Homo sapiens: one gene and its partners. The main gene of each other region encodes a partner of the protein of the gene in region 2 in a complex. Links are inferred from orthologs where the notes say so. Each region holds a gene or a part of one and is shown on either strand. Other genes may lie near its edges.

Region 1 (8,706 bases), on a different chromosome or scaffold from region 2:
CTCATAATCTCAAAAGGACAGTCCTTTATATTGAATAAGTTTGGCTCCCAGAAAAACTACAAGAGTGTCCTTATTTTTCTCATTTCTCCACCAAGAAGAGAAAAAATCATCACAGACCAAGAGTTGGGAATAACATTTCCAAAAAGAGTGAGATCTGTCATCCAGTCCACCCAAATTTCCCCACCTGCACGGCATTGGCAGAGCAGTGACTAAGATCTGCAGATCTGTGCCTTCCAGCAGCCGGGAACGATGAAGCAGCAGGAGAATGGGGGAATCTGGAAGCACTCACAGCTGCAAACTGGGCCTGGGTCCTGCAGCCTCAGCTCAGGGCAGCCCTCTGATGGGGACACTGAAAGAAGCACCCTAGTCATTTTTTCCCCTTTGTTTTTTTTTTTTTGAGTTGGAGTCTGGTTCTGTTGCCTAGGCTGGAGTGCAGTGGCACAATCTTGGCTCACTTCAACCTCCATCTCCTGGGTTCAAGTGATTCTTCTGCCTCAACCTTCCAAGTAGCTGGGATTACACACATCACCATGCCCAGCTTTTTTTTTTTTTTTTTTTTGTATTTTTAGTAGAGACAGGGTTTCACCATGTTGGCCTGGCCTCAAGCTCCTGACCTTCAGGTGATCCGCCCACCTCGGCCTCCCAGAGTGCTGGGATTACAGGTGTAAGCCACCGTGCCCGGCCACAGCAATTTTTTTTTTGCCCACGCTGGAATACAGTGACATGCTCACGGTTCACTATAACCTCAACATCCCAGGCCCAAACAATCCTCTGGCATAAGCCAAGTAGCTGGGACCACAGGCACACACCACCAGGCCTGGCTAATTTTGTTTACTTTTTATAGAGATAGGGTCTCACTATGTTGCCCAGGCTGTTCTCAAACTCCTGTGCTCAAGTGATCCACCTGCCTCTGCCTCTCAGAGTGCTCAGATTACAGGTGTGTGCCACTGTGCCTGGCCCTATTTATTGTTTTTTGTTTGTTTGTTTTTTTGTTGTTTGTTTTTGAGACAAGGACTCGCTCTGTTGCCCAGGCTGGAATACAGTGGTGTGATCATGGCTCACTCCAGCCTCAACCTCCCAGGCTCAAGCCGTCCTCCAGCCTCAGCCTTCCAGAGTGCTGGGATTACAGGCGTGAGCCACCACACCTCACTTATATAACACAGTTTTGTATTTTAACCTTTCTATTATAGGAGCAGTAAATGGTCATAGGAGAAAATGTGAAAAATTATAGACAAGAAAATTGAAACAAAGCCTACCATTTCATTACAAGGTAATGAGAGACCTTTAACTACCAATGTTAGCTTAAGGTGTATTCTTGCAAAGTATGCATAGGTATAGCATGCATATGAACCTGCATGTATGTGTGTAAATATGCTTGTGTGTATATGCATGTGTGTGTAAATGTACATATATGTATGTATACACAAATACATAGTCTCTGTGTGTTTGCAAAACGTGGACATGCTAAGCACACCATTCTGCAGTCTTGTTGGTTCTGTCACAATCTCTCACCTTTCTACTCCAGGCATTTTACCATAGTCAGATTTTCCCAATGAACCCAAAATGTCCTACACATCCTTTTTGACCAGTTGTGTATTCAGTCTGGGGCTGCACATGACATCTGGGTCTCGAGTGTCTTAGCGTCTTTTAATCTAGTAAACCCCATGTCTTTTTTCTTTTTTTTTTTTTTTTGAGACAGAGTCTCGCTCTGTCACCCAGGCTGGAGTGCAGTGGCACGATCTTGACTCACTGCAACCTCCCCTCCCGGGTTCAAGCAGTTCTTCTGCCTCAGCCTCCCGAGTAGCTGGAACTACAGGCGCCCACCACCACGCCTGGCTAATTTTTGTATTTTTAGTAGAGACGGAGTTTCACTATGTTGGCCAGGCTGGTCTCGAACTCCTGACCTTGTGATCCGTCCGCTTCGGCCTCCCAAAGTGCTGGGATTACAGGCGTGAGCCACTGCACCTGGCCTACCCATTTCTATGGCATTGTTTGTTGGATTTGTCTGGCTGCTCACTTGCGTCACGTAGCTCGTTCCTTGTATTTCCGATAAACTAGAAATGATGTCTGAAGGCTCATGGATTCAAGTTAACCCAAGGGGACACATCCCATGTGGCTGACACCACCAGCAATGCTAAGATTGACCATGGCATCTGCCGTGCACCTTGTGATGACACCATGATCCGTGTGGCATCACTTCACTCCTACAGTCATTTTCCCAGCAACTCTTCACCTAATGGTTTTAGCACCAATGAATAATCTTTGTGTTTTAAAATAGGGGGTTTGCAGTTCAGGTATGGTGAGGCCAACCATAGAGTATGCTAAGGATAGGGTGACATTGAAGTAAAGACTCAAAGCCATTGAAGGAGTGAGCCATGTGGCTGGCTGTGGGAAGACTGTTCCAGGAGAGGAAATAGCAAGTGGAAAGGCCTAGACGGAGGTTTAAAGAAAAGCAGGCCAGTGGTGGTGGCTCACGTCTGTAACCCCAACACTTTAGAAGGTTGAGGTGAGAGGATCAGTTGAGGTTGGGAGTTCGAGACCAGCCTGAGCAACATAGCAAGACCCCATCTCTACAAAAAGGTTAAAGAATTAGCTGGGTGTGGTGGCATGTGCCTGTAGTCCTAGCTACTCGGGAGGCTTAAGTGGGAGGAGCGCTTGAGCCCAGGAGTTCAAAGCTGCAGTGAGCTATGATTGCACCACTGCACTCCAGCCTGGGTGACAGAGCGAGACCCTGTCTCTAAAAGAAAAGAAAACAGGCTCAGTACTCTGGAGTGAAGTGGGCAAGGGAGAGGGTGGTGAGAAATAAAGTCAGAGGTAAAGGGGGGCCAGAGCATGCCGGACCTGGCAAGCATTGTCCAGACTTAAATGGGAAGCCATTGGAATGTTTGGGTGGATGCTGATACCCCAAACGTCAGAACAGGCTTTCTGCATATACTTGTTTCATTCCCAAGTCAGTCCCCCATGTAAGTGTGTTAGTGGTCGCAGAGTCCCCTCCATCCATTCCCTGAGTGTTCTTGGGAGCAGGCATTGTTCTGGGCACTGTGAAGACAAAAGTGAAGGAAACAAAATGGCCTAGGCCCTGCCCTCATGGAGCCTGGACTCCAGTGAGGGAAGAGAGACTGTAGAATAATTCCCAAGCAAGAGTGAAATGTGGCCAGGCACGGTAGCTCATGCCTATAATCCCAGCACTTCAGGAGGCCAGGAGTTTGACACCAACCTGGCCAACATGACGAAACCCCATCTCTATTAAAAATACAAAAATTAGCTGGGCATGCTGGTGCACAACTGTAATCCCAGCTACTCGGGAGGCTGAGACAGGAGAATCGCTTGCACCCAGGAGGTGGAGGCTGCAGTGAGCCGAGATCGCGCCACTGCACTCCAGCCCAGGCAACAGAGTGAGACTCTATCTCGAAAGCAAAAAAAAAAAAGAGTGAAATGCAAGCGTGCCTCCAATCTGGTCCTGGAGGTTGGGGATAGCTCCCCTGAGGAAGTGACTCCTGGTCAAAAATCTGAAAGGCCAAGAAGAGTCAACAAAGTGGAGAGAGGAGAGGCTTGTTCCAGGCAGAAATAATAGTGGGAAGGAGGAAGCGTGGCAGACGGCGTGGAAGGAAAGGCAGGCAGAGGTTCCAGAGGCTGCAAGCTTTTTGCCTGCATTCTAAGAGCAATGGGTGATTGTAAGCGAGGGATGACAGGGCTCAGAAGGTCTCTCTGCCTCTGTGTGGAAAAGGGCTTGGAGGGTAGAAATAAATGTGGTCGGCTGGGTGCGGTGACTCATTCCTGGAATCCCAGCACTTTGGGAGGCCGAGGCAGGTGGATCACCTGAGGTCAGGAGTTCGAGACCAGCCTGGCCAACATAGTAAAACCCTGTCTCTACTAAAAATACAAAATTAGCTCAGTGTGGTGGTAGGCGCCTGTAGTCCCAGCTACTCTGGAGGCTGAGGCAAGAGAATCACTTGAACCTGGGAGGCAGAAGTTTCAGCAAGCTGAGACTGCACCACTGCACTTCAGCCTGGGAGGCAGAAGTTTCAGCAAGCTGAGACTGCACCACTGCACTTCAGCCTGGGAGACAGAGCAAGACTCCATCTCAAAACAAAAAACAAAACAAAAAAAAGAAAAGAAATAGATGTAGTCAGACAGTGGGGAATCACTCCGGTCCTGAGAAGCAAAGGCGGTGCTGGGGATGGGAGGATGCAGACAGGTTCCAGAGACACTGAGGGGATCAACAGGACTCCTGAAGCCATCAATCAGTAGGACCGGGTGGAGGAGAGGGACAGATCCAGCTTGGCTTGCATAACACCAGGTTCATCTTGAGGTTGACATTTCTCCTTGACCTTTTTGTTTAGTCCCCACCCGCAAGGTCGCATTAGCTGCCTGCTGAGTTTAATCAAATCTCTTCCTGTCCTGGCAATGCCCGGGAATGAAGAGATAATCAGTCTATTTCCAGAATCCAAAGAGGTTTAGAAGAAAAAGTAGCTTTCATTTAGCTGTTGGCCCTCCCACCAACCTTCCCCAAGTCAGCTGGGTGACTCATACATCTGTGAGACCCTCCGTATGGAGACCGGGGCGGGGGGTGTTGCTTAATGCTTAGAACTGCTGAAACTACCAGTTCACTGTCTCAGCACTAATCCAACTCTGCTCCTTAAGTGGGATTTGGCTTTTAGACATTGAGACCTGGATGCTGGGCATCCTCGCTAGATCCCCTACAAATTCCCCACATACGTAGGCCAGGAGCCTCAGCGGTGCCCCTTCAGGCTCATCTGGCAAGACGGTACCAGCTTGCTCAGAACAGGGGCTGGCTATTCATCATCTCAGAGCATAGAGACCCTCTCCTTGCCACCCGGCCCTTCCCACCTGGTTGGTGACAAATCACAAGGTATGTGACCACCACAGGCCAAAACCTTATCAGAAACCTGGGGCAGGTGTGGGGAAGAGCAAGGATGGGCGTTTTCCTGCAGACAGTATGTCCCGCCTTCACCTTTTCTGTGTGGTTTCCATAAGACTTGGTTGCTATTTAAGGAGACTTGGAGTGAGCGGGTGCAATGGCTCATGCCTATAGTCCCAGTGACTCAGGAGGCTGAGGCTGGAGGATCACTTGAAGCCAGGAATTCGAGACCAACTTGAGCAATACAGTCAGACCCAGTCTCTACAAAAAAACAAAAATAAAAATAAATTAGCTAGGCATGGTGTCACACACCTGTAGTCCTGGCTACTCAGCTGGCTGAGGCAGGAGGATCACGAGCCCAGGAGTTCGAGGCTGCGGTGAGCTATGATTGTGGCACTGCCCTCCAGCCTGGGCAACAGAACGAGCTCCTATATCTTAAAAAAAAAAAAAACCTCAGAGTATGCTTAATTCTAGACCGCTAAGATGGCCTCTTAATTGTAAAACAGAGTGGCTATCTCTTAGTAGGAATTGCCAAATAGAACTTTTGGGATTTTAATATATTCTTTTTTTTTAAAAAAAGTGATAGGATCTTGCTATGTTGCCCAGGCCAGTCTCCAACTCCTGGTTTCAAATGATCCTCTCGCTTCAGCCTCCCAGAATGTTGAGATGACAGGTGTGAGCCACAGTGCCCGGCCATTAATATCTTCTTGAAAACAGTCTTTGCGAAGTGGTTATGTTGTGGTTTTCAGGAACTTTTCTGATTTATTCGCCATTAGACACAGTCACGATAGAACTTTAAATTCAACCTGGCTAAGTGTGATAACACCAAAGGTTAGTCAGAAAGTAAAACCTCATTGGAATCTAGCTAGACTCCCTGGCAAGGTGTACTGAGAAATGTTTGAAGCTTACCAAGAAAAATAAAATATTGAAAACACCCCAAAGCATGCTGCAGTAAAATACAAACTAAGCAAAGACTCACCGATGAAACTCGGATGTTGAAGCCGGTACAAGGGCATGGTGAGGACGCACAGGATCTCGTGAGTAGGTTTCATAACTAGGATGTTCTTGACTTGATATTTAGGATTGTCTTACCTTTCTCCAACCCTCTAACACCTGACCAACACCCCAAGGTGGTAGAAGTTGCCAGGGACAGATAACATGGCAGCCAGCGGGAAGACCAGCAAGTCCGAACCGAACCATGTTATCTTCAAGAAGATCTCCCGGGACAAATCGGTGAGTGGTGCACAAGTGAGTGATTTGATAGAAATTATTGTTTAAAAAAAATGGAGCTTTTTCAAGTACAGTGTAGTCATGATCAACATCAAAACTCTTTGAGGGCCAGGGCGCGGTGGCTCATGCCTGTAATCCCAGCACTTTGGGAGGCGGAGGCGGGATAACTTGAGGCCAGGAGTTCGAGACCAGCCTGGCCAACATGGCAAAACCCATCTCTACTAAAAATACAAAAATTAGCTGGGTATGGTGGCAGGCACCTGTAATCCCAGACTTGGGAGGCTGAGGCACAAGAATCACTTGAACCCAGGAGGTACAGGTTGCAGTGAGCCCAGATGGTGCCACTGCACTCTAGCCTGGGTAGCAGAGGGAGACTCTGTCTCAAATAAAAAACAAACAAACACTGTGAGGGCCAGGGAAGCTTTGTGTCTATTTTTGTCTCTGTCTAAGATGGATGATCACTGAGCTATAAATGAGTGAATGAACTGCAGAAATAGAGCTTCTCTTCAGTCTCATCAAGACTTTAGTCCTGTGTCCCTCAGTTTTCTCCGAATCCCTCAATCCCCACACTGTCACCCCCACCTCTGCATCTTTTCCTAGCCAGCCTTGAACCCTTGACTTACTATTTAAACACAGTTTTGTCAGTACCTGTGATGCCCTTGGCCTTTTGTCTATCTATTGTGTCACCTGCCTGGGTAAAACCCAGACAGTGATCAATGTGACTCCTTCTTCTCCGTGCACCTACCCCACCCGGGGGGTCTCAAGCCTCAGCTGGGCCCGCAGGGCCATTGGATAAGGGAAAATGCCCCAGTCTGCCCCCTTTCCACCACTCTCCAGGGGCACGTTAGATGCTCCAGGTGTGCCCATGAACTTCCTCGCATGGGAGAGGGTCCACCGTCCAGCCTCTGTGGATAGCTCCACTCGAAAGCTTCTTGTGGGCCAAAAATCTAGCTCAGCAACATCTAGTGCAAGCCACATATGTAATTTTAAATTTTCTAGTAGCCACATTTAAAAAGTAAGAAGAAACAGGTGAAATTCATTTTGATGTTATATTTTATTTCAGCCCACTATATCCAAAAAACTATCAGTTCAACTTGTAAATAATAATATAAGAATTATTGAAATCTGATGTGTATTTTATGTTTACAGAACATGTCAATTTGGAATGGCCATATTTCAGGTGTCCGGGAGCCACCTTAAGCAGTGGCTACCCTACTGGACAGGGTAGCTCGCCATCATTCTGGCTTTTTTTTTTTTTTTTTTTTTGAGACAGAGTCTCACTCTGTCACCGAGGCTGGAGTGCAGTGGCGTGATCTCAGCTCACTGCAACCTCTGCCTCCCAGGTTCAAGCAATTCTGCCTCGGCCTCCCTAGTAGCTGGGACTACAGGCATGTGCCACCGCGCCCAGCTAATTTTTGTATTTTTAGTAGAGACAGGGTTTCACCATGTTGGCCAAGCTGGTCTCGAACTCCTGACCTCAGGTGATCCGCCCATCTTGGCCTCCCCAAGTGCTGAGATTACAGGTGTGAGCCACCGCACCTGGCCCATTGTGGCTGACTTCTGAACCCGGTATGGGGTCCAAAGAACCTCCCCATCCTTACCGTGCCACCCAGGAGATCCGGCTTTGCCTGTGTGCTTTCTGCCTTCTCCTCTCCTAGTTAAGGAACTCGGTCATTTTAATCAAGTACTCTGATTCTTTCGTTCTCCAAGCCCTTTCCCAAGTTGTATCTTTCCAGTCCATTTTATCTCAACTTCTGGCTGAAGAGGAAACCACTCGTGTTGGTTTCCCACGTTGTTTTCCCCTTGCTCCTAGATTTTCCACCAAGAAATGTAGATGGTTTTTGTAGATAAGTCCTCACAGGTGGGAAAAGAGAATTCAATTCCTGTCTCATGTATTCAGATCATTTTGCCAGCGATGTCTGTGTGGCCCCAGGCATGGTGTGCCAGGGCTCTGAGCCCATTTCTCTGTGATTCTCCCGACGCTGCCCTCTTCTTTGACCTTCATCCTCCAGCAGGTGGCTAAATGACTGCCCCTGCTCCTGGCGTCTCACCCACACTTGACAACATCCAGAAGGAAGAGGCTGTGGTTTCCTGGGGTCTCTTGTAAGGGTCAGGAAATCTTTCCCAAGACTCTTCTCTCATATCTCATTGGCCAAAACTGGGTCACATGTCCACTGTAAACCAATCCCAAGCCAGAAGAATTAGATGATCGTAGTGAATCAGGCCAATCAAGAATCGTACCCTGGAGCCGGCCTCCTCTGAGCATACCGCCTGGTGGAAGATGGTGGTCCCTGAACAATAGTTGGCGGCTTTTATCCAGGAAGAAGGGGTGTGTGGCTGTTGGATGGGCCCCCGAAGGCTGGCTACAGTCTCACATCACCCACTTCTCTACCTGCCCCCATCCTGCCCCTGTCCTTCCTGTTGCAGTGGAAGGGGTAGTTTGCTCCCATCTGAGGTTCACCACCTCTTACACCCTGGGTTTCATGGTTGGCCACCTTCTCAGGGGCCTCAGTCATTGGTCTGGCTGTGTGTGCAGCCTCTCCTCTCTGCTAGTACTTTGTCTGAGCATAAAAATAAGTACCAGCCAGGCGCGG
Region 2 (5,778 bases):
GAGGCACTCTGTACATCTGCTGGCTGCCTGGAGATGAGGTGGGGCCAAACTTGCTGCAACTTAAGGCAGCAGCTCCTTCTCTTTATGTATGCAAGTGCCCACGAAGCAGCTGTCAAGTCATTTGTAAATTAAGGAGGTGGAGGCTTTCTTGTCTATCAGGACAAACCAGAGAATGTTCTGGTGTTAGAGTAAAATTTTCCTCTGGACATGAGGCTGGGGCAAATGTACCATTTCTCAGAAAAAGTGGGCTGGGTTGGGGTTGGGGCGGGGAGCTGGAATGGGCTGCCTGCAAGTCAGGGCAGCTAAGATGCCACTGTCCCACCCACTGCCACCCTGGCCCAACACAGCATCCAAAACAAAGGGTGAGACCTTCGGGACCACCCATAGGAATCTTCTCCCTCATGTCCCTGAGATGATGAGGGAGGGAGGCCTGGTCCAGCCACGTGCCCAGAAAACACCAACTTAGATTCCATTCCCTCTGGGTTGATGTTGGCTCTGCTCACCCTGCCTCCTGCCCTCCTACTTCAGGTAACAGCACCTGGGCTTTCCTTTGTGAAACCTACCTCTCCCCATTCAGCCTGCTTGGGCTGCAGGGTGAGCATGTGACCTAGGTCTGACCAATCAGAGGATGAATCCCCATTCCAGCCATGGTGATGCAGTTAGACCTGCGTATGCCTAGTATTCCATTATTGGAACGCTAAGCATGTGGGAGTTATTTATATCCTACTGCTCAAGGTCATCGCCAAGGTCTGATTGCAAAAATCCAAAAAATTGCAACCTCAGGCATAAATGAGTTACGTATGATCAGGTGACCTAGACTTGGCCAATCACAGAATTAATCCCCATCTCAGTCATGGTGATACCCTGTGCCTGAAGCCCCGGGCTTTTTGTTCATGTGAGCCAACAATGTGTCCCTTTTGCTTCAGCCCAAATGAGTTGGATTTCCTATCACTTGTGACCAAAAGTATCCTGACTGATATTATCTAGTGAGTCACAGTAAAGAGGGACAATGATAGAGATCCCAGCATGATTTGCCCCAGCCTCACCAAGGCACCGAGGATCGGCTATCTCATGCTCCTGCCCTCCTTTCTCACCTCGGAGGAGGGGGTGACTCTCGGGAGCTTTAGCTCCATCCTTTTCCCCTTTGGGACAGGGTCTCTAGTAAGGCCAGCTCTGAGCTGAAGCCCAGTATTGCCATAGTCTCATCTGCTGCATGCCAGGCAGTAGGCTGGCCACTTAAAGTCCACAGTCGCATCTAATCCCCTTAGGATCAAGTGGTTTTTTTGTTGTTGTTTTTTGTTTGTTTGTTTGTTTGTTTGTTTGTTTTGTTTTGTTTGGAGACAGACTGTCCCTCTGTTGCTCAGGCTGGAGTGCAGTGGCGCAATCTCGGCTCACTGCAACCTCCACCTCCCAGGTTCAAGCGATTCTCCTGCCTCAGCCCACTGAATAGCTGGGATTACAGGCACGCGCCACCATGCCCAGCTGATTTTTGTATTTTTAGTAGAGACAGGGTTTCACCGTGTTGGTCAGGCTGGTCTCAAACTCCTGACCTCGTGATCTGCCCACCTTGGCCTCCCAAAGTGCTGGGATTAGAGGTGTGAGCCACTGTGCCCAGCCAAGGTCAGTTTTAAGATTCTTTTTTGCAGATAAGGAAGCTCTGAGAGGTGACAAAGCTTGTTTGCAGTTTTATGGGTTACCTGTGCCTCTATGACCCCAAAGTTGGGGTTTTTCCCATTCCCAGGACTGCCTCCTCCACCTCTAGCCCCAGGGGACTCTGTGCTGCTTGGCTCTGCTCATTGCTCAATCCAGCCATCCCAGGGTCAGGGATCAGGTGGAAGCTGGCAGTTTCAATCTATCCTGTGGATAGAGTGTGAAAGCAACAAAACCCACCACCGTTAATACCAACATAGGAGCTGAGCTTTTAATGGCCCAATTTGCCTTAGTCTCCAGGCAGAGCTGGGTAAAGCTAGAGCTTCTGGCTTTGCTTATATGGAGAAGGGGGAGCAGTTACTGAGGCAGCTTAATTCTGACACCTCAGAGATGTGGCCAGCTTTTTGGAGCAGATTCTCCAGAATGGAGAATGGACTAGCAACTGCTGAAGATGGGCTTGTCTGGCAAGGGAAACTGGAAACTGGGGCCCATGAACATCCCCAAGGAAGGTAGGCCCAGTGGAATTTCCCACTCTTTGTTTCTAAGCTCTTCGAGATAAGGATGACATCAGGGACTCAGCTGTTAATTAAATGTGGGCGGGTGAGCATGGCTTCTAGAGGCTCCATGCTCTAGATGCTGGGACCCAGGTGCTAGAGCAAAAGAGCAGGTGGCTTCCAGAGGCTGAGAGAAAGGCCTGTCTCTCCATAGGCCACATTGGGAAGGGGAGGCACGGGACCTGGGGCCCCACACTAGGGGTGAGACCCCAGGCCCAATCTCACCCTCATTGGGAACTTGGCCTTCACCGTCCCCCTCCCCCAGTGTTGTTTTTTCAGGTCTGATGACTGCATTCTGCATTCCTGTGACTGTCCCTGCCTACAGCCCAACCCCCAGCCCTGGTCTGGCCTTGATGCCTAGCTAATTTTTAAAAACCTGCCCCAAGGTTGGGTGAAACCCCATCATCTGAATGCCCAATCTCAAAATGTTCACTATCAGGAGGTGATAATCATAGTAATTAACTAGTTACATTAATTGATGTTATTCACAACATTAACTAGAATCTGTACAGCTTCTTGCTATTTACAAAGTGCTGAAACACACACATAGACACACACACACCTCTTTTGGTCTTCTCAGTAGCTGCGTGTCGGCAGGACCAGGGATCTGGGATTTCCATTTTATAGGAGAAGAAAGTGAGGCCCAGGGAGGGAAAAACAACTGCTCCATATCATTAGCCAAGTATGAGTTGCTGCTGCTGCGAGGGTCTGAGAGGATAGATATGTTCTCCCTTCCCATTCATTCCTCCATTCCTTCCTGCATCCATCCAGCATTTATTAAGCACCTACTGTGTGCCCCATTCTGTGCTAGACACTTATCCCTAAGCTGGGACACTTTTCCAGAAAGCAAGAATCCTCGTGTTCCTGAAAGATGAGTTGGGAGGAGGAGGGGCACACATCCCGCTGGCCTTGGGGAACGTGGGACTCCAGATCAGTAGGTCTTGGTGGATGTCCCTTCTCAGGCTGTCCCAGGTGAGTGAGGAGCCTCATTAATTATTTCTTAAAAAAAAAAAAAAAATTAAGGAGCCTATGTGACTTCGTTCATTCTGCACAGGCGCTGCTCCTGGTGGGATGGCTGTGGCTGGGGGAAGGTGTAGGGGATGGGAGACGCCTATAGTCGGCCACAGAGTCCTAGGCAGGTCTTAGGCCGGGGCCACCTGGCTCGTCTCCGTCTTGGACACGGTAGCAGAGGCCTCATCGTCACCCAGTGGGTTCTTGCCGCAGCAGATGGTGGTGAGCATGCAGTTCCGGAACTGGAAGGCAAGAGGCTTGAGTCAGGGCCAGGGCTGCCCACAGTGTGCTTGGAACTGGCACGTTAGTGAGGTTCGCCCCGACCCTTTGCCTGCTTCTGCCCCTCACGATTCCAGCGCCCCATCCACTCAAATCCAGCTTCCTGGAGGGAACCTGCTAGGCAGACGCTCCTCACCCCTAGAGATGCCAGGGACTGAGCACAAGGGGGCTGTGTCACCCGTGACATTTCATGGTGCCCTCTGTGTGCCAAGGGTGTTCTGTAAATTATCTCTTGTAATCCAAGAGTTTGGTGTTTTGCCCTTTCTACCTTTCTATGGATGAGGAAACCAAAGCACAGAGAAGGAAATTGACTTGCCCAGGGCCATACAGCTAGAAAATGGCAGAGCTGACTTCAGAGACTGTTTACCCAACTGTTTACCCCTCGGAGGTACCTCTCCGAGGAACCCTTTACCCCTTTACCCCTCAGAATAAGACTTTTTAGCTCCTTATTCAGCTTTATGGAGACTGGCCCATCCCATTCCCGACTTGGGTCCTTCTGACTTTGACATTGGGCTTCCAGAACTAGCTGACTGGAGCTTCTCCCACCTGAGTGAGCATCTGAGCCACCTGTGGAGGGCTTGCTGGAAATGCAGGTTCCTGGGCCCACCCTGAGATTCAGCAGTTCTGAGTGGGGCCAGGAATCTGCATTTCTCACACACTCCCCATTGGGACTGCTGACCCAAGACTGCTGCCAGTAACCCTGATGGAGCCCCCTCCCCTGCCCTGGGAAGTAGCTTGTCCTTGGCAGGCAGCGCCTGTGGCCTGGGGCACTGGGGCCCTCCCACCCGCAGTAGGCACCTGCTTGTTCATCATGATATAGATGACAGGGTTGTAGATGGCGGCGCTCTTGGCAAAGAACGCTGGGATGGTCATGAAGATGGGACCGAAGTTGGAGCCCTGGTGGGTGAAGATGTAGAATGCCACGCTGGCGTAGGGCACCCAGCAGATCAGGAAAGCGATGACCATGATGATGACCATGCGGGTGACCTCCTTCTCTGCCTTCTGTGTGGTGGCTGACTCCTGCTGCTGGGCAGCGGCCTGCAGGACACGGGACCCGGGTCCAGACCATGGCTCCTCCAGGGAGCAGGAGCCGCAGATGCATGCTGGGGGCTGGACCCTCAGAGCCGTGAGGCCGCCCACCCCCCGGCCCGTACCTCCTTGACGGTGAAGACGAGCTGCCCATAGCAGAAAAAGATGATAATCATGGGGATGGTGAAGTGGACCACGAACATGTAGATGACAAAAGACTCGTTGTTGACCTCCGGCTTGAGCGTGTAGTAGTCGATTCCACACGAGCACTGCAGGCCCTCGGGGATGTACCTGAGGACAGGCAGGTAGGGAGACCCTGCCTGTGAGGGACTTGGGAACAGCCAAGGTGGCTGCCGAGCGCTGGCCCTTTCTGGGGCTTCACATTCCCTCCCTGGAAAAGGGGATCATAAACGTCTGCATGGCTGGGTGACAGGATGGAATGGATCAGATGGGGATGCAGATGCACCTTGTGGAATCAGTGTCGCTTCATTGTTTGGTGGCTGCGTTACCAGATGACACCACCCAGCCTCTCCCTGCATGCCCAGCCCCAGCATCCACTGCCCGCTGAGGCTAGGGCTATGCCACGCAGAGGGTTGGTGAGGAGGTGGGGAGAGCCCTCAGGCTCTGCATTTGAGGAAGTTTGTACAAACCGAGGTCTTCCTAGCCCCAGGGTGAGAGTATTTTCCAGGCCAAAGATGGACACACAGAGTATCTAAGGGATCTTTGTGCAGCTTCTGGAAACTAGAGGCTTCCAGCGCACGTCATTAGGACGTGGCAATGGTTCCTGATATTGGTGACAGTGGACGGGCCTCAGGAAACCCAGAGCGTCCAGCGGCTCTGCTTCCAGAGGATAGAACTAGGCCAGATTGGAGAAGATGGGGAAAAAGTCCAGGGGGTGGGCTCAAATTCAGCAAGGGGTAAGAAATGGACCCTAGCAAGACTGAGGAGGAAAGGGAAGTGAGAGTGGGAATTTTCTGGAGACAGAGGGACATGAGGCCTCTGGGGACCAGAGTCACCAGTCCTATTGTCCAAACCACTGTCCCCACTGTGTCTCATCTCAGCCCCATTAGGAGACAATCGCCTAGAGGCTGAGTGGGACCCAGTTCCAAGGGGCCACAATATGGCCACCTGCACTAGGAAGGTGTGGCCTCCCCTGCTGCTGAGGCCCAAGGTTAGAGGGGGCTGCCCCCGGGGTACTAGACCAAAGAGGATTGGAATTTGCGCCTAGCTTAGTTGAGGATTAGGGGCACAGCCA
Region 3 (8,976 bases), on a different chromosome or scaffold from region 2:
ACAATATAGCACAAAGAAAAAATAAAAATAAAGGGTTTTAGAACTAAAAGAAAAGAACATCTATGATGAACTTCCCATGATAATGCTGGAAATCACTAGCTAAAAGTGAAAAATTGTAGAATAAATGTTAATTATATATATAAATGTGGCAGAGGGTGTTTTGAATATGAAGAAAAAAGAAAGCTAATTTTTTTCCTATGCTTTCCATGGGGCTTCAAATCTAAGCAGCCCATGTGATGGAAATTTGCAAAAAAAACAAACGAAACTGATGCAGCAAAATAAACTCAAACTGAAATTTGATGTAATAAGCATAAAGAGAGGAGAAAGGAAAAATGGAAACATGATCCATATTGAGTTTACAATTAAATAATAGGTATTATTTTGAATAAAAGTACCATTGAATGAAACGTTTATAAAACTTTAAAACGTACTTAGATACAAATGAGAATATTTTATCCGTTAGAATTTGTTTTTCTTATTAAAATGTGCTCTTTCTGGAATATCTTTGCAAGTAAATTTTTTAAAGCATGTGGCATTATTTTCTTGATTGCAGTTATCAAATGTGCTCAGCAATGTATGAGTCATCTCCAGTGTTTCCTAAAAGCCTACTTTTTGCTAAAATAAAACACAGATTTGGCATCTGTTCTGTAATTTTACTGAAGGTCTGAAAGGTGTAATAAAAAAAGGCATCTGTCTGCAAGATGATCCTTTAATTGTAAAGTCGCACTTTGACCGCTCTTCAGATTCAGTGAAATCTTGTGTTCGATAATACCAAATGGTTACATCCGCTTTGCAGTACATGTTAAATGTGGAAAGTTGGTGTTATGAGTTTAAGCTTCTAGAAATTCATTAGATGAAGATCAACATACTGAAAAAAAATCTGTCAAAAGTGTTTTTTAGATTTCTTATTTTTGTAAATGTAGGTATTGACTCAGGAGCTGATCACTACTAAGGTTAAACTGGTTAGTTCCATGTGACATGTACTCACTGATAAACTTAAAAGTGTCATTCAGACGACACTGATGAATGAGAACATCGTTTCAATGATGGGAAAAATTAAATAGATTTCATTGGTGAGGAGATTTGAGGGTAGGAGAGTGGAAAGTTTTGGTTTAGTTCAACTAAGCACTTTTATAATGTCTTAATGAGGTCAAATTGAATATAAAAATTACAGTTTCGAGAATTTGAATTCAATCCAAACATGAGAATGAAGTAGAGCTGTTATAAGACTGTTATGAATTTGATAATTGTATCATCATATGTAGAATTCAGATGGACTCCAAAAGGGAAACTTAGCCAGATGTTTGTAATATAATTGAAATAGGAACAACTTAAGAGAATTTCATTTATTTTGTATAAATAAAATGTGACAAAGGAGTTTAGTGCACATAGTGTTGGAACCAAATAAATCCAAGTATTTTACTTACTAATGATGAAATTGTATGTATAAAATTGTAAACACCTTGGGAAAGTAAAACATGTAATAGTCCCACTAATGATTCTTTTATACTTCTGGTACAAATATTGCTCTTTCTTCTTGATCTAACCAACACTTAAGTCTAAAAATAATTCATCTGACTTATTTTTCATTTGATAGCATTGCATACAATAAGTTGGGTCCCAGTCAATGGCTCTGTGGAGTGGTAAAATTTACTAATTCTGGAACCCTGTATGTATCAGTAGTCCATTGATTTTCAGTTCCAAATTTAAAAAAAATCTTTCTTTTGTCCATCATTACATTGAACCTTTTTGACCCAATTTTCAGTGATGTGTTTTCATTCATCTATATATACTCTTTTTGAACATTTTTAATTTATTTTTTTAAATTGACAAATAACATTCCATGCTTGTGTTGTGTCCAACACGATATGTTGAAGTAAAAATACAGTGTAGAATGGTTAAATCTAGCTAATTAACAAATGTATTACTTCACAGTTATCATTTTTGTGGTAAGTGCACATAACACCTACTCTCTTTACATTTTTCAAGAATACAATAGATCATCATTAACTATAGTCACCGTGCTGAACAGTAGATCTCTTGAAATTTATTCTTCCTATTTAACTGTAATTTTGTGTCCTTTGACCAACAACTCCCTTTCCCCTTGTTCCCCCCAACCACCCTAGCCCCTAGAAACCACCTTTCTACCTTGTTCTTTTCCGTCACAACTGAATCTCTAGTTGACTGGCAGCTCTGATATGCTTATCTCAAGAGTCATTGCTTTTGGCATGTTTAATAGTTTTTGTCTTAGTCTAAATTGTGGTATTAGCTCTTTCATTGTTTTGGCTTTCCATTTGTATTTTTACAAAATAAGAGAATATGTAAAAAAATAGATAATTGGTATATTGAAAACACACATCTATTGAAATGTTATTTAAACACGGAAATTTTTAATACGTTTTATCACCATTCTTATGTCATTGATCTTAGTACAAAAGGAATATAAAAATGAATTTGTAAGAATGCTTGTCTTTCCCTTTTACCTTTCATTTGCTTTTCCTGTGTCCATATTACTTTCACTCTTGCTCAGAAACTAACAGAATTCTATGGTGTGTTAGGAAGCATATATTTCCTGGTGTCATTAGTACTTAACCCACATCTTTCAAAGTCACCAACCTCTGGGTAGTTACTGACAAGTGCTGTGGGCCTGTGTGCAGGCACAGAACCTGTGTGTAAGGGGCAAGGATGTTTCCTTTCCTTTAAGGAGCAAGTGCTGGGAATCCCACAGTTGGCTTCTGAAACACTCTTGCCACTGGGAGCAAATTAGACACAACGAAGGAATACTTAAATAAGTTTAAGTATTTAATTCATTTAATATTAAGTATTTAAGTGTTTAAATACTTAAAATATGAGGAAATTTGTTATGTGAAATATGCACGATTCTGAAATAAGATGAAGTCCTTTTGTGTATAACCAAAATCAGGGAGAAAGTACAACTCATAATTGAATCAGAAGTAAGTGCTTGCTTTGTATTCTTTATATAGGTCATCATTTTTATTTCAAAAACATATTTCTGTTTCAGTGAAACTGCATGTAAAATGTTTTATGCTTTATAGAAAAAATCTGCATATGGATTATTTTTATTCTTTCAATTAATTGAACATTTATTGAATTTATAGTCAAGGTAAAACAGTGCTGAGTTTTGAAAGAAGGAAAAAAAAATAAAAGAGACATAAATCCTGACCTGAATGAATATATAAATGCTCTAAAAGGATTTAGGTAGAGTATTTTTCAAGTGTACAGGCAATATTGCAGGCAGTATTCAGGAGCCTAAGTAATATTGTTAATATAATTTAAAGTACCTTATCATTGTTCTCTAACTTGACTAATTGATTTTTAACTATACAAGTAAATAACAAACATTAACTTCAACGTCAAACAATTCAACCTATTTCTGTTTAAACAAAATAATATAACTCTTTATAACTTGTAGCTAAAGGATTTCTTTCAGTATTAAAAAGCTGACATTCAGAAAATGATTAGGGTGCAATAAAATAATAAATGTATCTGATTTTTATTTTAATAATAGTAAACCATATTACTGACAGAGAAATTAGCTGATAAATATTTGCCTCCTTGCTTAACAAAAAGGTAATAAAATACTAAACAGAAAAATTATTAAATATTGATAGAGTACAAATAAATTTTCCTTAAGTTTCCAAACACATTTTTATAATAAATTTCCCATATGATAATACACTCGAAATTAAAGTCTGAGAAAAGTAAATATATCACAATTGAAAAAAAAGTCAGGTTTTTGAAAGCAAAAGGGAAAAGAAATTACCTAATAGTAGCAGCTTTACGGTTCTTGCATCTCGCTCAGCATCCTCCTGAAGCTTTTTCTCCAGTTCTTTTGATCTTTTGGCTGACTCCTTGCTCTCTGAACTAATTCCACTTCCCATCTTGTGGTGGTAGATACTTGTCAGTTTATATGTTCAGATTTTTCAAATGTTGAGCACAGCTGTGGTTTGGACATAGGAGGCAAGAGTAATGCTCTGCTGAAGTACCTAGCAGTCCATTCCCTAATGCTCTAAGATTCTGCTTTGACTAAGGAGATGCTTTCTCATCTGTCACCTGATCAGGTGGTAAAACCATACCCCCCTGATGGAGGCTAGAGAGGAAGTTCATTATGCTTTCAAATTAAATGACTGCTTCGGGCACATCTTCGAAAACAGGCTTATCTGCTTTATAGTATAAAATAATGTAGAAAGTTGTCAAAATCTATACACTAGAGATGATCTACAATAAGCAATTCAAATAGAATGTTTCTCACTACTGGGCAATTTTTATTACTGTGATTAAAAGTTATTATTACTAATCAGCGATGCTTACATCTTATCTTCAGATATTTGGCCCTTCAATTTCTTTATAATCACTCCTATATCACAATCAGAATATATACATGTAAGTTATCCAACTTTTATGGTCTACCTATGCTTAGATTATTACTTAAAGCTATTGAGCATCTATTAGCATCTGTCAGGGAACAAAAAAAATCTTTTTTTTAACAATGGATACAAATACATATAGTTTTTATATTTGTACATATTGTATTGCTACAAATATAAAATTCAACACAGTTTTCTTAAATTATTGATTTTAGTGTCATAGGATCCATCTCTATAAATTGAGCTTTTGCCGCCTGTGAGAAAGTCAATCCATCAACACTAATTGAGGGCCCACTTGGTGTAGACACTGAACTATGTTCAATTTAGGCAGCGCATTAACTCTTTAGGGCCATTAAGCAACAGCTGCTGTGCTGGAGGGACTCTTACTGATTTGGTACCAAGGGAATAAAAACCAATGTTCTTTGAAACAGCAGGTAATTTGGTTTTTCCTACAAACTAAAAACAGTAATTACACCTAAATAAGTTCCATAGCTTTCAACTACCCCAACAGATACCATGTACTTCTTGAAAATCTTCAGGATTGAGGGCAGAGATTATGTTGCACAATTTTTTATTTATATGAAGCATAAAGTGCTTGGTAGATAGTCAATCAATATTTTCCTTATGAACAGAGTCGGTTGCCTGTGGCACATCTTTCAGTGTGCATTTTGGGATTTGTGAATGTGCTTAACCAGAAAATGCCAGAATACAGTCAATCCACCAACCTGTCAGTGGTGCTCTTCTTGTGGGATCATGTGCAAAGTTTGAACAGGTGAGTTTTTACATATTCATGCAACAAGAAAATAGGCTGCCAGATTAAATACATAGTCCTGCTTTGTTTACTTTTTCCACATCAAAAATATTAGGCTGAAGATACATAAACATAGTCAAAACTTCCTGGGTTCCGTTCTTCCAAAGCCATATTATGATAGTATAAAGATGTGCAGTGGTGGATAGGCAAGGATTTGTGCAAATCATGTGGTATTGCTTTTACAATGCAAAGGGCCTGTCCCAAAGGAAGGAGATTTGCACGGCCTAATGCTCACCTGTGAACACAAAGTCCACTCTGAAAGCAACACTTAGCACATTTAATCTCTTTTTGCCTAGTGCTTTTTTATAGAAATTGAATATAATAGCACCCTGAATAAACAGAATTCTTGCATGTTCTATGGCAGAAACGAACTGACAGGCTACATCATATAATTTGCATACAAGCATAAATATACCTCATAGCTTTTTGGCAGAGACGTACCCTGCTTTTAGGAACATACATGTTTTACTAAGGCTTCCTAATGGGATTACTAACTAAAACTGACCAACTCTTTCAGGAGTAGGAGTATACATTTTCTGCACTGTATAAAACGATGAACTTCCACTTTTCTGTTGTAACCAGTAATGTTCATCAACTTGATGAGATTATCAGGTGATTTTTTCATCAGTGATTAAAATATTCTTGACATAAAACTCTAGGTATGTCTGTGTTACAGAGAGGGAGAGCGGGAGAGCTAGAGAGGAAAGCAAGACTCATTTCTCAGCCTTCTCCCCTGGGTGCCTCGGACACAGCATCATTAATGAGCTGGGCTTAATACAGCTATTAGTTCATATTGCTTCACTTAGTCATATAGCTTTCTGTACGTAAAGAAATGAGGAAAATCAAAATAGTAAACTCCGCTAGCGTGGTGATAATATCTTACTAGCTTGAATGGTCTACATGGTATATGGCACAGTACTAGTTATAGTAAATGTTCAAAATTACTTCTTGCTGACAAACTGATAGAGGCTGGAGGCCCTTTCTTTCCTGTGCTTAGTGACAGTATACTTAGGATTTCTTTTCTAAAATTTTGGAGTGACTCAAAAAAATCAACAAAAAGCCAAATTTTAGTTTTAAATAGTGTCAGTATATACGATTGTAGCTATTAGTCCAATAGTCACACATTTGTTTCCTCAGTCTTAAAAGTAATAGCAGCATCCTCCTTTTCAATTGTTAAGCCCTGTTTGTTCTACAGTAAGGGAAAACTGATAGAAGATGACAACAGAAAAAAAAAAAGCTAAATTAGATGCCGTGACCGTAAATTTTGTTTGTTCTTGAAAACAAGAAATGTGAAGCTAGCCAAAACACCAACATCATGTTAGAGTTTTATACATGCATACATACACACACACAGACATACACACATGTATGTAAGGTCAGTGCAAAAGTAATTGTGCTTTTGGTCATTTTAAAAGTAATTACAAAAACCGCAATTACTTTTGCACCAACTTAATGTATGTTCCAGCTAGGAGAGATGGTTGCCCTGTGTACACACACTTGCACACACAGACACGCACAAAAACGTGAATGCACAAGCCCATGCACACACACAAAAAGCAAGAGATTGTGTTGGAGTGCAGTGGTCTTTTAGAATAATCATTGAGAATGACGTTTAAGAATATTGTTTCTTTATTGCATCACAGTAAAATTGATTTGAGGACAAATACAGAGATTGAACCACACTTAACCTCCAATAGTCACTGAAATACCACAAGTATGGAGGATGAAAATAAATTTTCTGTTGCTATTTTTGGTTAGGATCTCTGTGGAATCTTCAGAAAGCAACATTAGCCTTTAAAAAGTGTGAGTAATCACTATTTTACATCGATGATTAAACATATAGCTAGAGGTGACATGCAATTATTTGCTACCTGCTTTTAATAACCAGATTTCAATCTATGTTTTTGGAGATGTCTCTTTTGCCAGTATCACCTGCGTTTCTACGGTCATCAAGCTGAATTGCTCGTGGGGATGTTACCTGTGGCTGACTTCAATGACTTGAGGTTGCTACGTCTTAGGGATGTCTCAATGGCTCAGCTAATGCTGGAAATTGCCAAAACAGGCTGTGATCAGTGTTACTCTTTATTTTGTTTCCAATCTTATAGGAGGTTTTGATTTCAGGCATTCTATCCCTAGGTGGTTTGAGTTGTGGCTGCCTTAGCAATGACCTTTATCCTTGTATATTCCCATGAAACTTGAGGCAAACCATCTCTCCTTTGCTAATGGTGCTCAAATGTACACTTCAGGGAGCTCCAAGCCTGGTATTTCTTCCAGAGAGTTCATGCCTTTTGGGGCTTCCTAAGAGCAATCTTTTGATCTTGAGGGAATAAAGCAAACCTTACTCTTTCAAGTTAGTACATTCAGATGGTGCAACAAGTTTACATTGCCAACATTAAACAGCTCTTATGTACTAATAGGTAACACAAATATGTATTTTTTTCATTGGAGTTGATTTCTACCTTTCTACATTTTTTTTATGAATTAGGATAGAATTTTATATATGATTATTGGATAAGAGTCACAACTGTTTCCCAGGGTGCCTTTTCCTATCTCAAATTCTGTCTCTTTTAAGATTTTTAAAATATTGCTCTTTAACACATTTCTATTACTAACTCCCATAATCATATTTCTCAGCAATTTCAGCCCTGATTGTTGCAACAGCTTCTCACTTAGGTTTCCTTACTCTAGGCTCCACTCTATCCCAGTCCAATCGGTCTGATTGTGCCAGGCTAAATTCCCTCAAAGGCAAGTTTAATTATTACTCCTTTCTGGCTGGAAAAAACAAATGATTCTATATTTACTACTTCCTCCTGTGTTACTCCTGTAACATATGTTATTACTGAGTACATGAGCATACCATGTACTCAATAATATAGTTAGCACTATCTAACTATCCAAATATATTTCCCAATCACAGGCAGACCTCAAGGATACTGCAGATTCTGTTCCAGACCACCGCAATAAAGTGAATATCACGGTAAAGTGATCACACAAATGTTTTAGTTTCCCAGGCCATATGAAAATTATGTTTATACTATACTGTAGTCTATTAAGTGTGCAATAGCACTATGTCTAAAAAAGCAATGTGCATACCTTAACAAAAAAAAATTGCTAAAAATGCTAACAATCCTCTGAGCCTTCAGCAGTTTATAATCTTTTATAAATCACTGTGTAAATATTAACAAAATAAATGTTTACAGATAAACACCATATATTAAACATCAAGAGGTGCAGTTTCATTGGCCATTGAACATGGTTTCAATACTTTTTAAAATTAAAGTATAGGAATATCGATAACTTGGAAAACAACACAAACTTGATTTTTACATAAAGCCTAACAAGAAAATAGTTACTACTTTTTGTTGTCCTTGTTATATAACTTCTTAGGAGTATTTATATAGTAGTATATAAATAGTAATCTTTTTGTATATCATCAGAGCTCTGAATTACCATGTGCATTGTCAATTTCAATATTTCAAAAGGAATCTTTTATTTTGAGCAGTAAGTCTCAATAGAGGGCTTAACATATTTAGTAAACCAGGCTACAAACAAATGTGCTGTCATCCAGGCTTTGTTTTTCCTTTTATAGAGCACAGGCATAGCAGTATCAGTTTTAAGGACCCTAGGATTTTTGGAATGTTAAATGAGCATTGGCTTCAACTTAAAGTCACCAGCTGCATTAGCCCTTAAAAAGAGTGTCAGCCTGTCCTTCAAAGCTCTGAAGCTGGACATTAACTTCCCTCTCTAGCTTTGAAAGTCCTAAGTAGCAGCTTCTTG

Evidence for each region. Proteins that work in one complex are often made in the same cells at the same time.
Region 1: the proteins of RHO (region 2) and SAG are in contact, whole or in part, in a crystal structure (PDB 4PXF), measured with the Bos taurus proteins. The link is inferred for Homo sapiens from one-to-one orthologs. Residues at the interface, in NP_001014890.1 of Bos taurus: Arg135, Val138, Val139, Lys141, Leu226, Glu249, Val250, Met253, Met309, Asn310, Lys311, Gln312; in XP_010802144.1 of Bos taurus: Asp71, Ile72, Met75, Gly76, Leu77.
Region 3: the proteins of RHO (region 2) and GNAT3 are in contact, whole or in part, in a crystal structure (PDB 4A4M), measured with the Bos taurus proteins. The link is inferred for Homo sapiens from one-to-one orthologs. Residues at the interface, in NP_001014890.1 of Bos taurus: Leu72, Arg135, Val138, Val139, Lys141, Thr229, Val230, Ala233, Thr242, Thr243, Lys245, Ala246, Glu249, Val250, Asn310, Lys311, Gln312; in NP_001103452.1 of Bos taurus: Ile344, Asn347, Leu348, Lys349, Asp350, Cys351, Gly352, Leu353, Phe354.

The regions. Positions count from the first base shown.
Region 1 is NC_000002.12:233,303,150-233,311,855, forward strand, and holds the start of SAG (S-arrestin), read left to right. Parts: upstream 1-4,666; 5' UTR 4,667-4,873; intron 4,874-6,012; 5' UTR 6,013-6,040; coding exon 6,041-6,115; intron 6,116-8,706. UniProt on the Homo sapiens protein: Binds to photoactivated, phosphorylated RHO and terminates RHO signaling via G-proteins by competing with G-proteins for the same binding site on RHO. May play a role in preventing light-dependent degeneration of retinal photoreceptor cells.
Region 2 is NC_000003.12:129,531,287-129,537,064, reverse strand, and holds the end of RHO (rhodopsin), read right to left. Parts: intron 4,815-5,778; coding exon 4,649-4,814; intron 4,533-4,648; coding exon 4,293-4,532; intron 3,458-4,292; coding exon 3,347-3,457; 3' UTR 1,721-3,346; downstream 1-1,720. UniProt on the Homo sapiens protein: Photoreceptor required for image-forming vision at low light intensity. Required for photoreceptor cell viability after birth.
Region 3 is NC_000007.14:80,508,025-80,517,000, forward strand, and holds the start of GNAT3 (guanine nucleotide-binding protein G(t) subunit alpha-3), read right to left. Parts: upstream 4,041-8,976; 5' UTR 3,903-4,040; coding exon 3,785-3,902; intron 1-3,784. UniProt on the Homo sapiens protein: Guanine nucleotide-binding protein (G protein) alpha subunit playing a prominent role in bitter and sweet taste transduction as well as in umami (monosodium glutamate, monopotassium glutamate, and inosine monophosphate) taste transduction.